Homo sapiens: one gene and its partner. Each later gene encodes a partner of the first gene's protein in a complex. Each region holds a gene or a part of one and is shown on either strand. Other genes may lie near its edges.

What was found.
Region 2: DPF1 (region 1) and ARID1B share a complex: the UniProt entries of both Homo sapiens proteins name them as parts of the neuron-specific chromatin remodeling complex.

Annotation. Positions count from the first base shown.
Region 1 is NC_000019.10:38,213,918-38,221,247, reverse strand, and holds part of DPF1 (zinc finger protein neuro-d4), read left to right. Parts: intron 1-2,189; coding exon 2,190-2,317; intron 2,318-2,585; coding exon 2,586-2,675; intron 2,676-3,371; coding exon 3,372-3,450; intron 3,451-3,656; coding exon 3,657-3,788; intron 3,789-4,844; coding exon 4,845-4,895; intron 4,896-4,988; coding exon 4,989-5,108; intron 5,109-7,330. UniProt on the Homo sapiens protein: May have an important role in developing neurons by participating in regulation of cell survival, possibly as a neurospecific transcription factor. Belongs to the neuron-specific chromatin remodeling complex (nBAF complex).
Region 2 is NC_000006.12:156,772,524-156,780,377, forward strand, and holds the start of ARID1B (AT-rich interactive domain-containing protein 1B), read left to right. Parts: upstream 1-4,854; 5' UTR 4,855-5,157; coding exon 5,158-6,948; intron 6,949-7,154; exon of another isoform or gene 7,155-7,208; intron 7,209-7,854. UniProt on the Homo sapiens protein: Involved in transcriptional activation and repression of select genes by chromatin remodeling (alteration of DNA-nucleosome topology).

The sequences.
Region 1 (7,330 bases):
GTATTTTTTTCTGTGGGTGCCTGAGGGTGTCTGCCTCTGTATCTCCCCAAGGGCGTCTGGATGTCTCAGTGTCTGGTTGGAGCTCTTTCCTCTCTTAGGTGTATCTTCCCAGGTGTCTCCAAGTGTCTTAGAAGGCTTGTGTCTTGTGTATGTCTGGTCTGTCAGGGTGTCCGGCTCCTCCCGAGTGTGTCTGGGTGTGTTAGGCGGTGCGGCCGTCTCTTTCTGTGGGTGTGTGGGTGCCTCGGAGTGTCTGGGAGAATCTTCCTGATGGTGTCTGGCGTATCAGGTGTATTTCTGCACGTGTGTGCCAGTCCATCAGAGGATCTGGACTTACCCTTGAATGTGTTTAGGAATATCGGGATCCTCGGGGTCAGTTTCTCTTCCTGAGTCCGAGGGTCTGTGTGTACCCAGGAGCGTGGCAGTGCCCACCTGGCTGTGTCTCTTCCTGTCTGTCTCCTGTGTGTGTTTGTGTGTATCTAGCTGAGTGATTCTCCCTGAGTATGTCGGTATCTCCCCGCTATGTGTCCAAGCATCTCATCTGGCTGTGTCTTCCCCAGGGTCTAGGTGTATCTGGAGGGCTAATTGTTTCTTTCTTTTTTTCTTTTTTCTTTTTCTTTTTCTTTTTTTTTTTTGAGACGGAGTCTTGCTCTGTCGCCCAGGCTGGAGTGCAGTGGCGCGATCTCACTGCAAGCTCCGCCTCCTGGGTTCACGCCATTCTCCTGCCTCAGCCTCCCGAGTAGCTGGGACTACAGGCGCCTGCCACTACGCCCAGCTAATTTTTTGTATTTTTAGTAGAGACGGGGTTTCACCGTGTTAGCCAGGATGGTCTCGATCTCCTGACCTCATGATCTGCCCGCCTCGGCCTCCCAAAGTGCTGGGATTACAGGCGTGAGCCACCGCACCCGGCCTCTTTCTTTCTTTCTCTTTCTTTCTTTCTTTCTCTTTCTTTCTCTCTCTCTCTTTTTCTTTTCTTTCCTTCCTTCCTTTCTTTCTTTCTTTCCTTCCTTCTTTCTTTCTTTCTCTCTCTTTCTTTTTCTTTTCTTTCCCTCCTTCCTTCCTTCTTCCTTTCTTTTTTTTTTTCACCCAGTTTGGAGTGCAGTGGCACGATCTCGGCTCACTGCAACCTCCGCATCCCGGGTTCAAGTGATTCTCTGCCTCAACCTCCTGAGTAGCTGGGATTACAGGCATGTGCCCCTACACCCGGCTAATTTTTGTATTTTTTTTTTTTTAAGTAGAGATGAGGTTTTACCATGTTGGCCAGGCTGGTCTCAAACTCCTGACCTCAAGTGATCCACCCGCCTCAGCCTCCTAAAGTGTTGGGATTACAGGTGTGAGCCAACGCGCCTGGCCAGCTAATTGTCTCTGAGCATTTCTGAGTGTACCCATGGGTCCAGCTATGTCTCCTCCCTGTGTCTGGGTGTCTCCAAGGATCTGGCTATACCTCTTTGAGTCTCTAGGCTGTATCTGAGAGTGTGGCTTATGCCTGTAATTCCAGCACTTTGGAAGGCCGAGGCAGAGGATCGCTTGAACTCAGGAGTTTGAGACCAGCCTGATTAACACGATGAAACCCCATCTCTACCAAAAATACAAAAATTAGCCCAGTGTGGTAGCATGCCAGCTACTCTGCCTGTAGTCCCAGCTACTCAGGAGGCTGAGGTGGGAGGATCACTTGAGCCTGGGAGTCGCAGTGAGCTGAGATTGCGCCACTGCACTCCAACCTGGGTGACAGAGCGAGACCCTGTCTCAAAAAAAAAAGAAAAAAGACAGCATGGCTGGGCCTCTTCCTTCCCGCATCTGTCTCAGACGATCTGTCTGGATGTCCCCTGCGGGTGTCCCTGTGTCTCCTCTGCGAGTGTCTGGATCTGTCCATATTTGTCTGGGTATGTTTGAGAGTCGCTGTGTCTTCCCTGAGTAGGTCTGGGTGTGCCTGATGGCCTAACTGTGTCTTTTTCTGAGGCTTTCTGGTGTATCCAAAGTTCTGACCGTGTCTCCTGCTGTGCATCCCAGGGCATCTGAGGGCGTGACTGGGTCTCCCCAGAGTCTGGGCCTCCCTCCTAGGGCATGTGGTTAAATCCTTGCCTCTGCAGCCTCTTCCCTCCTGCAAAGAGCATGGTCCCCCCACCTGCATAGTTTGAGGAGTCCTCCGGGGTCAACTTCCCCATCTGACCCCCCCATGGCCCTGTCCCCAGACTGTGAAGCACCCCTGAAGAAGGAGGGTGGCCTCCCGGAAGGGCCGGTCCTCGAGGCTCTACTGTGTGCAGAGACGGGGGAGAAGAAGATTGAGCTGAAGGAGGAGGAGACCATTATGGACTGTCAGGTGGGCCCACCTCTGGGGGACCCCCGCTGCATGGCTTCGTCTCACCCCTGCCTGCCACCAGCCCGGGCCCTCACGTTCCTGCTCTGAAACCCCCCCGGTTTCTTCTGGCTGTTGGGCATCCCAGTCACCATCCTCCCAGACTTCATCTCTATTTGGAAGAACTCCTGACTTATACTCTCACCCCCAATCTCCACCTTTGCCCAGAGCCCCTCAAAAGCAGGTCAGTGGCCCCCACTTTCTTGACCCGTCTCCTTTCTCTATTGCCCAGAAACAGCAGTTGCTGGAGTTTCCGCATGACCTCGAGGTGGAAGACTTGGAGGATGACATTCCCAGGAGGAAGAACAGGGCCAAAGGAAAGGTATCACCCCAAGCTTCTCCTCTTCCCCGCTCCCCTCAATGACAGGTCTCATTCATGGAGCAGGTGCAGTGGTCCGCCCCTGCCACAGTCTGACCTCAGTCTGACCTCATTGAATCCCCAGAGCGGCCTGCAGGGGTGGGGGATTTTATACCCATTTTACAGATGAGGAAACTGAGGCTCATCTGTATTAAGCCATTTGCAAAGCAGAGATTATGCAGTGGGTTAGAGCTACCTTCATCCCCATGCCACAGAGGAAGAAGCTGAACCTTGGAGAGGTTCAAGGCCCCACAGCTAGGACATTTGTACAGCTGCAATTTGAATTTGCAAAAGACACTGTTTTCTCACTTTCTTTTTTCTTTTTTTTCTTTTTTTTGAGACGGAGTCTCGCTCTGTCACAGGCTAGAGTGCAGTGGCGCAATATCTGCTCACTGCAACCTCCGCCTCCCGGGTTCAAGCGATTCTCCTGCCTCAGCCTCCCGAGTAGCTGGGACTACAGGCACGCGCCACCATGCCCAGCTAATTTTTCTATTTTTAGTAGAGACGGGGCTTCACCATGTTGGCCAAGGTGGTCTCGATCTCTTGACCTCGTGATCCGCCTGCCTCGGCCTCCCAAAGTGCTGGGATTACAGGTGTGAGCCACCACGCCTGGCCTGTTTTCTCACTTTCTTGGCCCCTCACTCCTGACTCTCCCCACAGGCATATGGCATCGGGGGTCTCCGGAAACGCCAGGACACCGCTTCCCTGGAGGACCGAGACAAGCCGTATGTCTGTGATAGTGAGTCCTTCTGAAGAGGGGGAAAGGCAGAGAGAGGGGTGCCCAGAGACTCCCCACCTCGTGGCCCTCTCCCTCCCGTTCCAGACCCGGGTTGGGAGGCTGCTCAGGTCTCTGGCTGAGGGGGGAGGTGTGATCCTGGAGGCCAGGGTGGAGGCGGCAGGGGCCCGGAGGGGCTGACAGGCCCTCCTGGCTCGCTCGCTCCCCAGTCTGTGGGAAACGGTATAAGAACCGGCCGGGGCTCAGCTACCACTACACCCACACCCACCTGGCCGAGGAGGAGGGGGAGGAGAACGCCGAACGCCACGCCCTGCCCTTCCACCGGAAAAACAACCATAAACGTGAGCTGGCAGGCCAGGTGGGGGTGGCCAGGGGCCCTGGGAGTGGGGAAGAGGAGCCCAGCTGGGGGTGGGGGTGGGGGGGCATTAGACATTTCTGGAAAATCTCCAGCTCAGCCGTTCCCTCCCCCCACCGACCATGGGGATGCTGGCTCCGGGGTTGCCATGGCAACCAACCATCGCTCCTTCGCTCCTGGCCGGGCGTAATATTTCTGGGTCTGATTTATTGTTTCAATTAGAGCTTGGGGAGGGGGGGTGATAGATGGCTCCCCTCCCGCCCTGCCTTCCCTTTCTCCTTTCTCTGCTAAGCTTTGGTCAAGGGGCAGGGTCTGTGGCCTGGGAGCCCTTGGCTTCCGCCCTTGCCAATCCCATGCCAGTTCTGACAGCTGAAGGATGGGGGAGGGGAGGAGGGTTTGGGAGAGGCAGTAGGGAGACACTGTCTTCCCACCTATCTCTCAGAGGCAGAGGCTGAGTGTCTTCACCCCTGGCCACTACACACCCACGCACCTCAGTGTTCGGAGTTTTTCTTCCGAGTGTCTGTTTCCATACCAGATCTTGGCTGGGGTACTCGCTGAATTTGTTAGATACAAATTACTGAGGGTGCAGTTGGGAGTGGCTGGCTGGGAGACATGTATGTGAGAAGGGAGGCAGGGAGCCCTTCCTCAAGCTGTCTACCAAGTTTTGACCCAATAAAGAGGACATGTCAGTTGTCTCAAGGAGTTGGGAATCCTGGCTGGGTGCAGTGGCTCACGCTTATAATCCCGCCACTTTGTGGCAGTGGCCGAGGTGGGAGGATCACTGGAGGCCAGGAGTTGGAGACCAGCCTGGGCAACATACCAAGACCCTGCCTTTATTTTTAATTGAAAAAAAAATTTAAAAAGGCAGAGTTGGGAGTCCCGATGAGAACTGTTTTCACCTCTCCCCACAGCTTGGGGTAGCTACTCACTCTTCCCAGCTCCCCACGCCTGGACTAAGAGGTCCATCCTTGGGGCTGAGGCTGGGGGCAGGGTGGAGCCTTGCCTGTGGTGAGAGTCCCTCTCTCTGTCCCCCCTACCCCAGAGTTTTACAAAGAATTGGCCTGGGTCCCTGAGGCACAAAGGAAACACACAGGTACGGATGCCTCCTTCTGCTCCTAAAGTCTGCAGCCACCTTTGCGGGGTGCCCTTGCCTGCCCCGTGCCAATGCCTGTCTGCTGTCTTGCAGCCAAGAAGGCGCCCGACGGCACTGTCATCCCCAACGGCTACTGTGACTTCTGCCTGGGGGGCTCCAAGAAGACGGGGTGTCCCGAGGACCTCATCTCCTGTGCGGACTGTGGGCGATCAGGTGATGCTCCCCACCTGAGGTTTCTGGGGGCCGGGTGCAGAGGACATTCAGGAGTGCAGACCTGGAGGGAGGGAGGCAAGGCGGTGAGGACCGAGGGGACCCGGAGCATGTAGGGGATACTGTGGATAACCAGAGCTAGCGAGGCTGATGCAACTGCTGAGGATTGTGGGAATTGGGTCGGATCAGTGAGGCTTTAGGGATAATGGGATGTGGCTCTCATGGCACTGTGGGTAGCTGCCTGTGCTTAGCATGGCATCAAGAGTAGTGAGAGGCCAGGTGTGGTGGCTCACGCCTGTAATCCCAGCACTTTGGGAGGCAGAGGTGGGAGGATCACTTGAGGCCAGGAATTTGAGACCAGCCTGAGCAACATAGCAAGACCCCCATCTCTACAAAAAATTTAAAAATTATCCAGGTGTGTTGTTGTGCACCTGTAATCCCAGCAACTCAGGAGGCTGAGGCCGGAGGCTCCCTTGAGCCCAGGAGTTTGAGACCAGCCTGGGCAACATAGTGAGATCCCATCTATATATAAAAAAAGTTAGCTGGGCATGGTGTTGCACCCCATTAGCCCCAGCTACTCGGGAGGCTGAAGTGGGAGGCTCGCTTGAGCCCAGAAGGTTTTTGTTTTGTTTTGTTTTGTTTTGTTTTTTGAGACAGAGTCTCCCTCTGTCACCCAGGCTGGAGTGCATTGGCATGATCTTGGCTCACTGCAACCTCCGCCTCCTGGGTTCAAGTGATTCTTGTGCTTCAGCCTCCCGAGTAGCTAGGATTACAGGCACCCGCCACCATGCCTGGCTAATTTTTAATATTTTTAGTAGAGACGGGGGTTTCACCATGTTGGCCAGGCTGGTCTCAAACTCCTGACCTCAGGTGATCTGCCTGCCTTGACCTCCCAAAGTGCTGGGATTACAGGCGTGAGCCACCGCAGCACCCAGCCCCTTGAATCTGGGAGTTTTTGACTAGCCAGGGCAACATAATGAGAGCCCATCTATTAAAAAAAAAATAGGCCAGGCTGGGTGATGTGGCTCACATCTGTAATCCCAGCACTTTGGGAGGCTGGGGCGAGCAGATCATGAGGTCAAGAGATCAAGACCATCCTGGCCAACATGGTGAAACCCCATCTCTATAAAAATACAAAATTTAGCTGGGTGTGGTGGTGCGTGCCTGTAGTTCCAGCTACTCCGGAGGCTGAGGCAGGAGAATCGCTTGAACCCGGGGCTCAGAGGTTGCCATGAGCCAAGATTGCACCACTGCACTCCACCCTGGGTATCAGAGCAAGACTCCGTCTCAAAAAAAAAAAAAAAAAAAAAAGGCTGGGCATAGTTTCGCACCCCATTAGTCCCAGCTACTCGGGAGGCTGAGGTGGGAGGATCGCTGGAGCCTGGGAGGTCAAGGCTGCAGAGTGCACTGTGATGGTGCCACTATGCTGCAGCCTGGGCAACAGAGTGAGACCTTGTTTCAAAAACCAAAACAAGACAAAAGGAGTAGCAAGAGACAGGGGCCAAGGCATGGCAGGTAGTGGGCTGTGTGGTGTGAGTGACGGACACCACCACCTGGGCACCGGTAGCAGGATGAGCTCGCCATAGAGTTGTGGTTAACAGAATGTGGTTTCCCATGGTGGGCTTGTGGGCAATATAGACTCTGGTTGCCTCAGCACAGTAGGTCATGAATTGTGGTTGTCGTGGCATCATGGGTAGTGAAATATGGTTGTCATGGCAACTCAGTATAATGGAATGTAGTTGTGATGGCACCGGGGCCGTGGTTGCAGGGGGCGGGCGCCATGGGTCGTGGCTGCAGGTAGCGGCTGCGGGTGTCTCTGCAGCGGGGCTGTGGAATGACTAAGCCTGGCGCTGCACAGTGCTGTGATGTGAGTAACAGTTTTGTTGCTGGGGCACCAAGTGGAATGGACTTCAGTTGCATGAAACCGAAGTGTGGGGACCCCGTTGTGGAAGGTGGTTGCCATGGCATTGTGGCTGGGAGAGTGTGGTTGCCACGTTGCTGTGGTTAACAGGACCCCTGGCCGTTCTGCTGTGGGTAATGGAAAGTGGCTGTCTCAGCACGGTGGTTAACAGAATGTGGTTGCCACGGTGTTGTGGGTGGTAGAAAGTGGTTGGCACAGCACTGTGGGTAATGGAATGCGGTTGCCATGGCGTTCTGGGGAGCAGAGTGTGGTTGCCATGGTGGTTGTGGTAGGAGACTGTGGTGGCCGGGGGACTGCTGCCGGC
Region 2 (7,854 bases), on another chromosome or scaffold:
AGATGCTCCTTGTGGGTTATGCTTTGGCAGGGAAACCTTTTGGCATGTCCGGTCCTTGAGAAAGAGGGTCACCTATACTACACAGAGTACAGCTTGACACAGGTGTCACCTGAGGGCCCAAGAAGATGCCAGGGAGAGCTCACTGAAATTTAAGTCTTAGAGTTACATGTTGCAATGTAACTTCAAGTTAGAGAGAGAAAAAAATTCTTTATATTTAACTTGGGCATTTTTAGGGGAATGGGTTAATAAGCAGATTCCTCAATGAAATTATGTCATTTTGGTATGAAAAGCATATAACCAAGTCCTTTGGCCCTGACCAAGACAATTAGATGACTGTCATAAACCCTTAAAGGTGCTCACTGACTCGCATAATGAATTAGAAACCAAGTCATCAGGTATAAGCAAGGTGAACTAAAAACGAGGAATGCGCTCCATTAATGCACGAGTTATTGTTATTTGGGACTTACTGTTTTTGAAACATAGTCTTATTCTCAAAGTTTACCTGTACTATAAAGCAATTAATCATTATCTGTGAGAGACCTAGAAGGCCTTCAGGTAAGTTCCTGAAACTTTTCTAGAAAACTGAGGTGATTCAACTGCCAAGTGACTTATTTGTATACCTGATTATATATGCTTACTACCCAAATATTTATTTTGAGGAACTAGAGTGGAGTTACCTATGCAGGACCTTTAGCCAGCCAGGCAGCATGTTATCACTAAGAACGGCCACAAAGATGACTACATGATGTGATGTAGAATACTGAAAAACACTGGTAGGTGCTCAGTAAGTGATTTTCACTAATGGCAAAATGATTGAGGACAGTACTGGAAATAAAAGCAGCCATTGAACACACATTTGTCTAAAAGTTACAAGAAATTTATAAATGAGGCTGTGATAAAGTCATTCAAAAGCGGACAGTCCAGGATAAAATAAAAAGTACAATGTATTAAAATGTAGTAAGGTGTTTCTTAATGTATTTCACTGGTGTTACTATGTTTCTAAGGAATTTGGAGAGAAACTGTAGTAGCCTGATGTTAAACTTAAGGTTCTGGAAGTCCAGACTCCACAGTGGTGGGTTCCAGGTGTCAAGTCGGAGTTGTGTCAGCGGGAGGATTAGGGTCAGCTGCCCGCTAATGGCAGCCAGCAAGCCTCCGCTGCAGGAAATGCTGCGGGATGGGGAAGGTCTGAGCTTGCTTCTTTACTGGCCAAATCCCATGTGACATTGAGGGGCAGACCTTAGTAGGTATGAGTGATTGTTAATTGTTTATCTCCCCTATGAAGGACAGGACCAAGGTAATTATCTTTCATTTTCAAGGCATGGCACAAGGTAGACTCTAGGTAAATTTGTTGAATGACTACATGCAGTGTATCTCCATCCAGGTTTATTATCCCCACAATAATTTTCTTAGTAAGTTTATTAGTGCTACCGTCTGCCATAGTTCCCAAATTTGAACTATTTTTTTTGCCTAGGCTTCTTTTTTTTTTTCAAATCCTACCTAATTGATTTGCACAGTTGTTTCAAATCAAATGCTACATCCCATATCTTGCAGTGACGCAGTTATTCACTGCTAACGTCTAAATCGGAGAAGTGAAAAGGACAATTGTTTCGTGCTTTCTTAAGTCCCTGACCAAGATCAGTAGGGAAATCCCATTAGCTCTATTCATCGCATTTCTCATAAATCTAAAAGGAAAGCAAGTATCCAAAGCTTTATTCTTTAATAGTTCTTATTTGTAAAACCTTGACAGGGCTTTATTCTAAATTGCTTCCAAATTACATAAAGAATAGTTAGAAATATGATGGGCAGTGAATCGTGATAGTTTCAGTCATCGAATAAATAAGTAGAACAGTAAAAGGGGACTAATCTGAAAGCAAACAGAGTATGATGGGCTACGATGAGGCAAAAAGAACAGAACTGTGGAATTCTTAAACTACCATCTGGCTCAATCCCCTTTAAGTGGCCAAGTTGAAGAGCCTTTTATTCAGTGCCCTAAAACTTATTCAAAAGGCGCAGTATTTGAATATTAATATTTCCATACAGTAAAAAAAAAAGTCTTTTGTAACCAAAAAGGAATGTTTAACAAAATAATGGGTAATCCTCTGGCTAAACATGAGGGCGTGGGGAGCACCCTGTGGGTGGGAGGTCGGCTGGAACCCAGGGTGGCTGCGGGCAGCCTCCGGGCCTTCCCCTCATGGCTTCTTTGTGGTTAGGGTAACTTATTAAAGTTGTCATTGTGGTTTGAAATTTAGGCAAGAGGTGTAAAATTAAGGAATTCATTAGGAAAAATGAGCGCAGTGATTTCTAGTACCTTATTTCATCAAAAAGAAACAATAAGGTAGAATTGCCATATGAGATAGTTGAGGCAAGGAACACAATGGAAATTTGAACCTGTGGTTGAAATTGTGCTTTTGTGTAATGGGAACCTATTTCATCACTTTGTAACAGACCCCTGACAATTGGTGTTTTGTTTGTTAAGCCCTGGATGTTTAAATGAAACTAAACAGGCTTTTATTTTGTTTTCCTGAGGTGTGTATGAAAAGTTGAGCAAATTCGAGTGCACTTCTTATCTTCAGCAAAGATGCTTTAGAAAGGTATTTTAGCATTCTCCGTGGTTTAAAAGACAAAACCAAGTCCTGCCGGCTTTGTGTTGTGCTTCTCCTACAGGCTGCAGTGCCTTCTGTCTGCTTTAGGGTGTGGCATCTGCCATTGGGGAGGAAAAACTGGCATGTGTCGCCTTTTATAGCAGACTGATTTCATTGTGCTGGGGGCCTCTATTTTATAGTCTCTTAGTTCCAATCTTCTAGTTGACTTGCTGAAGCAAATGGAATTAAAAGAGATTTTGACTTCTCTACTAATTTTTTTTTAGTTTCACGATTTGCCAATATGAAAAAATATTTTAAGGAAAAGGGCCATAGCTGAACTTGGTGACTCATTTTCCCTTTTAGGATTAGTTGTGAAAATAAGCCACAACATATGGCTACACTTGTATGAACTGACTTTGATATATTTTATCAATTTGAAAAAATGCACTTTTAGGATGATGTGTACATACTTAGTTTGACTATGTCTAAAAGCATAAATATGTAATTGATTTTAGAATATATGTATATACACACAAAACAGACATATATTTATATTTGCATATGAAAAACTAAAAATTCAACTTCTGTGGTGTAATGCGTATAATTAGTATGTATTTGAATATATAAAGGGAGAAAATCCAGGAAAAAATGTCAAAAAGGCACACTAACAAAGATGTAGTATTCTCTTGGCAAAAACTGATGAATGATTTGGCACGAATTCATCTTATGGTTCTGTTATTCTCTCTAACACACGATGATATATCCCGTTTTCCAGTTGTTTGCGTAGAATTGCAATTTGTTGTTTCTACACTCTATAATGACCCTTGGGTGTGCACCTGATTCCCTCCCCCCGACCCCAATTAGTCACCAGTTTTCCCATCAATCCTTTTCTATTTAGTCATGTAACATATTTACACTTGGTCAAACAAATAACCACTGCTGCAGTGGAAATGAACTAAAATAGTTTTTATGGAAAGCTGAAGAATGAAATAATTTTGGAAAACTATACTCTACCAAAACCGTAAGTATTGTTTCTGCCAGGTTTTAAATGCTTTCTCTCAATGAAAACTGAGTCCACACTAGTACAAGTGGGTCATTGCCTAAGGTTAAGAAGTCTTGCTTTTTAAAATGTTACTAGGGGACAATGCACATATTGAAAACATTAATAACAATGCAAATATTAAAAACATTATAAAATGTTAATAGACACCAATTTTTAAGAGAACAAAGTATGGAACATTTCTACATTAGGACTAGAGTTGACTGTTTTATATTATTATTGAAGTTATATTTATTAAATATAATGTCTATAATATTTTAGTTTCGTTCCACATCTCTTTGAAATGAATGTATATCGAGAGGGTTAACTGTGCACACGAAGCTCTGAAACATGATGAAAGGTGTCATATAGATTTATGAAGATACGAGCTAACCCATAGCTGTCGCTGTTCTGGCACCAAGAGTTAAATGTTCATGTGAAAGTTGGCGCAGAAAACACCACTGTACATACTCCACAGAGGACATCCAAGTGCATGTAAGAAAAATGCTCCTTTGGGAATACGTGGACATATTCCTTTGGAAATACACTGACAAACCTACATACGTGTTTAAGGTGCCTTCAAAAAGAGTTATGTAAACATTCTCTTTGGGGCGGGTGCAGTCAGTCATAAGCATTTATTGAGTACCTACTGGGTACAGGCCATAGGGCTCTCTGACCGGGGCTAACCTTCATTTCAAATCTTTCCTAATTTTGCAGTTGGAAGAAGTTGTGGGAATTACGCCGATGGCCCGAAATCAAGGCAGAGGCGAACGTTCTGAAAATTACATAACTCCTGGGAGAGACCGTGCTTTTGCAGATTGCCTAAATATTTTCTTTCTCCGTCGGCTCCTTGTAACCTCTGAGGCCAATAGACAACTTTGTTTCCCAGCCCTTCTCCCTCTTTTGTCTGCTCGTCAGACTCGTTTTCCACCTTTGTATCGTTCCTTTTAGACGTGAAAACAAACATGCGAACGCCCGGTTGGCAAGGAGACAGCGGCCCGGGGGGAAAGTGCAGGTTCCGGCCGCCCCACGCCGCCGCGCTCCGAGCGGCCGCCGAGCCGCCCCGGCCCCGGCCCCGGCCCCAGCCTTAGCCCAAGCCCGGCTGGGTCCCGCGAGGCTGCGCCGGGGCGGGCGGCGGCGGCCCGGGGACGAGTCCAGTCCGCGTTTTGCGAGTGCGCGGGAGTAATGCGAGCGAAGTGGATAATAGTTGCTCGAGCTCGCCCGCTGCCTCTCAAGCCATGCTGGGCCCGATAGGCTCAGCTAGTCGTGTATTTACCCATATCCGGGCTAGAGAGGAAAAGAGAAAAGTTTCATTTAAACCTGAACTAAAAACTTTCACCATGAAAGCACACAGCAGGAGCAGGCCCAGAGCGTAAGGCGTGCCCGGCCCGGCGCTCCGGCGGGGCCTGCGGAGGGGGAGGGGGTCGCGGCTTCCCGGCGGGCCGCGTGGATGCGCACAGGAGGGGCCGCGGCCTGAAAAGTGGGGGTTATTGTCTCCCCCCGCCCCCCGCCCGGCCTCGCCACGCCGCGGCGATCATGGCCGCGCGGGCAGCAGCGGCGGCGGCGGCGGCGGCGGCGCGGGCGCGGGCGCGGGCAGGCAGCGGCGAACGGCGGGCGCCCCCCGGGCCGCGGCCGGCGCCCGGAGCCCGGGACCTGGAGGCGGGGGCGCGCGGCGCGGCGGCGGCGGCGGCGGCACCGGGACCCATGCTGGGGGGCGGCGGCGACGGCGGCGGCGGCCTGAACAGTGTGCACCACCACCCCCTGCTCCCCCGTCACGAACTCAACATGGCCCATAACGCGGGCGCCGCGGCCGCCGCCGGCACCCACAGCGCCAAGAGCGGCGGCTCCGAGGCGGCTCTCAAGGAGGGTGGAAGCGCCGCCGCGCTGTCCTCCTCCTCCTCCTCCTCCGCGGCGGCAGCGGCGGCATCCTCTTCCTCCTCGTCGGGCCCGGGCTCGGCCATGGAGACGGGGCTGCTCCCCAACCACAAACTGAAAACCGTTGGCGAAGCCCCCGCCGCGCCGCCCCACCAGCAGCACCACCACCACCACCATGCCCACCACCACCACCACCATGCCCACCACCTCCACCACCACCACGCACTACAGCAGCAGCTAAACCAGTTCCAGCAGCAGCAGCAGCAGCAGCAACAGCAGCAGCAGCAGCAGCAGCAACAGCAACATCCCATTTCCAACAACAACAGCTTGGGCGGCGCGGGCGGCGGCGCGCCTCAGCCCGGCCCCGACATGGAGCAGCCGCAACATGGAGGCGCCAAGGACAGTGCTGCGGGCGGCCAGGCCGACCCCCCGGGCCCGCCGCTGCTGAGCAAGCCGGGCGACGAGGACGACGCGCCGCCCAAGATGGGGGAGCCGGCGGGCGGCCGCTACGAGCACCCGGGCTTGGGCGCCCTGGGCACGCAGCAGCCGCCGGTCGCCGTGCCCGGGGGCGGCGGCGGCCCGGCGGCCGTCCCGGAGTTTAATAATTACTATGGCAGCGCTGCCCCTGCGAGCGGCGGCCCCGGCGGCCGCGCTGGGCCTTGCTTTGATCAACATGGCGGACAACAAAGCCCCGGGATGGGGATGATGCACTCCGCCTCCGCCGCCGCCGCCGGGGCCCCCGGCAGCATGGACCCCCTGCAGAACTCCCACGAAGGGTACCCCAACAGCCAGTGCAACCATTATCCGGGCTACAGCCGGCCCGGCGCGGGCGGCGGCGGCGGCGGCGGCGGCGGAGGAGGAGGAGGCAGCGGAGGAGGAGGAGGAGGAGGAGGAGCAGGAGCAGGAGGAGCAGGAGCGGGAGCTGTGGCGGCGGCGGCCGCGGCGGCGGCGGCAGCAGCAGGAGGCGGCGGCGGCGGCGGCTATGGGGGCTCGTCCGCGGGGTACGGGGTGCTGAGCTCCCCCCGGCAGCAGGGCGGCGGCATGATGATGGGCCCCGGGGGCGGCGGGGCCGCGAGCCTCAGCAAGGCGGCCGCCGGCTCGGCGGCGGGGGGCTTCCAGCGCTTCGCCGGCCAGAACCAGCACCCGTCGGGGGCCACCCCGACCCTCAATCAGCTGCTCACCTCGCCCAGCCCCATGATGCGGAGCTACGGCGGCAGCTACCCCGAGTACAGCAGCCCCAGCGCGCCGCCGCCGCCGCCGTCGCAGCCCCAGTCCCAGGCGGCGGCGGCGGGGGCGGCGGCGGGCGGCCAGCAGGCGGCCGCGGGCATGGGCTTGGGCAAGGACATGGGCGCCCAGTACGCCGCTGCCAGCCCGGCCTGGGCGGCCGCGCAACAAAGGAGTCACCCGGCGATGAGCCCCGGCACCCCCGGACCGACCATGGGCAGATCCCAGGTAACCCTCGCGCCAGCCGGGCCTGCTTCCGCCCGGCGGCCTCGCCGCGCCGCGAGCCTGAGTTTCTTTCTTTGCCGCGTACTTTTCCCCGTCTTCCCGCGGGGGCGGCGGGGGCGCGGCGCCCAAAGCCATCTTGACGGGCGGCCGCCTCCCGCCGCGGTCGGGGCGCCCCGGGGGCCGGCGCGCTGTCCAGGCCTGGGAGGGCTTCGCCGGGCCGGGCCGGGCCGGGTGGCTTCTACCCCGCCGGCCCGCACCCGCGTCCCCCCCCTCCCCCAGGCCCGGGAACGCGAAGCGAGATCCCGAGGCGCCACCCGCGCGGTCGCCGTTTGGGGCGGCGGGGACCGTTCGGGTGCTTTTGTAACAAATAGGCTCTCCCGGCCAGGACGGCTGGGGCGAAGAGCCACCCGATCGGTTCTGGGAGCGCCCACAATGTGCTTTAACGGGGGAAAGAATGAGGAACTTTCTCACACCTTTAGCCACAGCACGTTCCCTCTTGGCTTCCGAGGTCCAGGCAGGGAAAATAGGTTAGCTTTGTGACAAGCGAGTGGGTTTTTCCTACTTAGGGAGAGCCATTCAGAGACACTCGGTGCGGGCTTCGAGCTCGAACGTTTGCTGGTAGGAATAATAACAAAATTTACAACGACATGGAGGTGCAATATTGTAAAATACATCGATTCGTTCCTTAGAATAGCCAGGGAAATCCATTATTGGGCTTACGGGCTGCTTGCAGGGAGTCACCTTCAACAGGCAGGCTATGTGAAAGGAGCACGTTCCGGATCAATTGAACTTATTTTGATCATGGATTAGGCATGCATTTTATTCAGCAAATCCAGTAAGATAGCAGACCAGTGAAAATTGATCTTTTGGGATCGTATTTATTTGGATTTTCTTTATTTTGCTGTCACC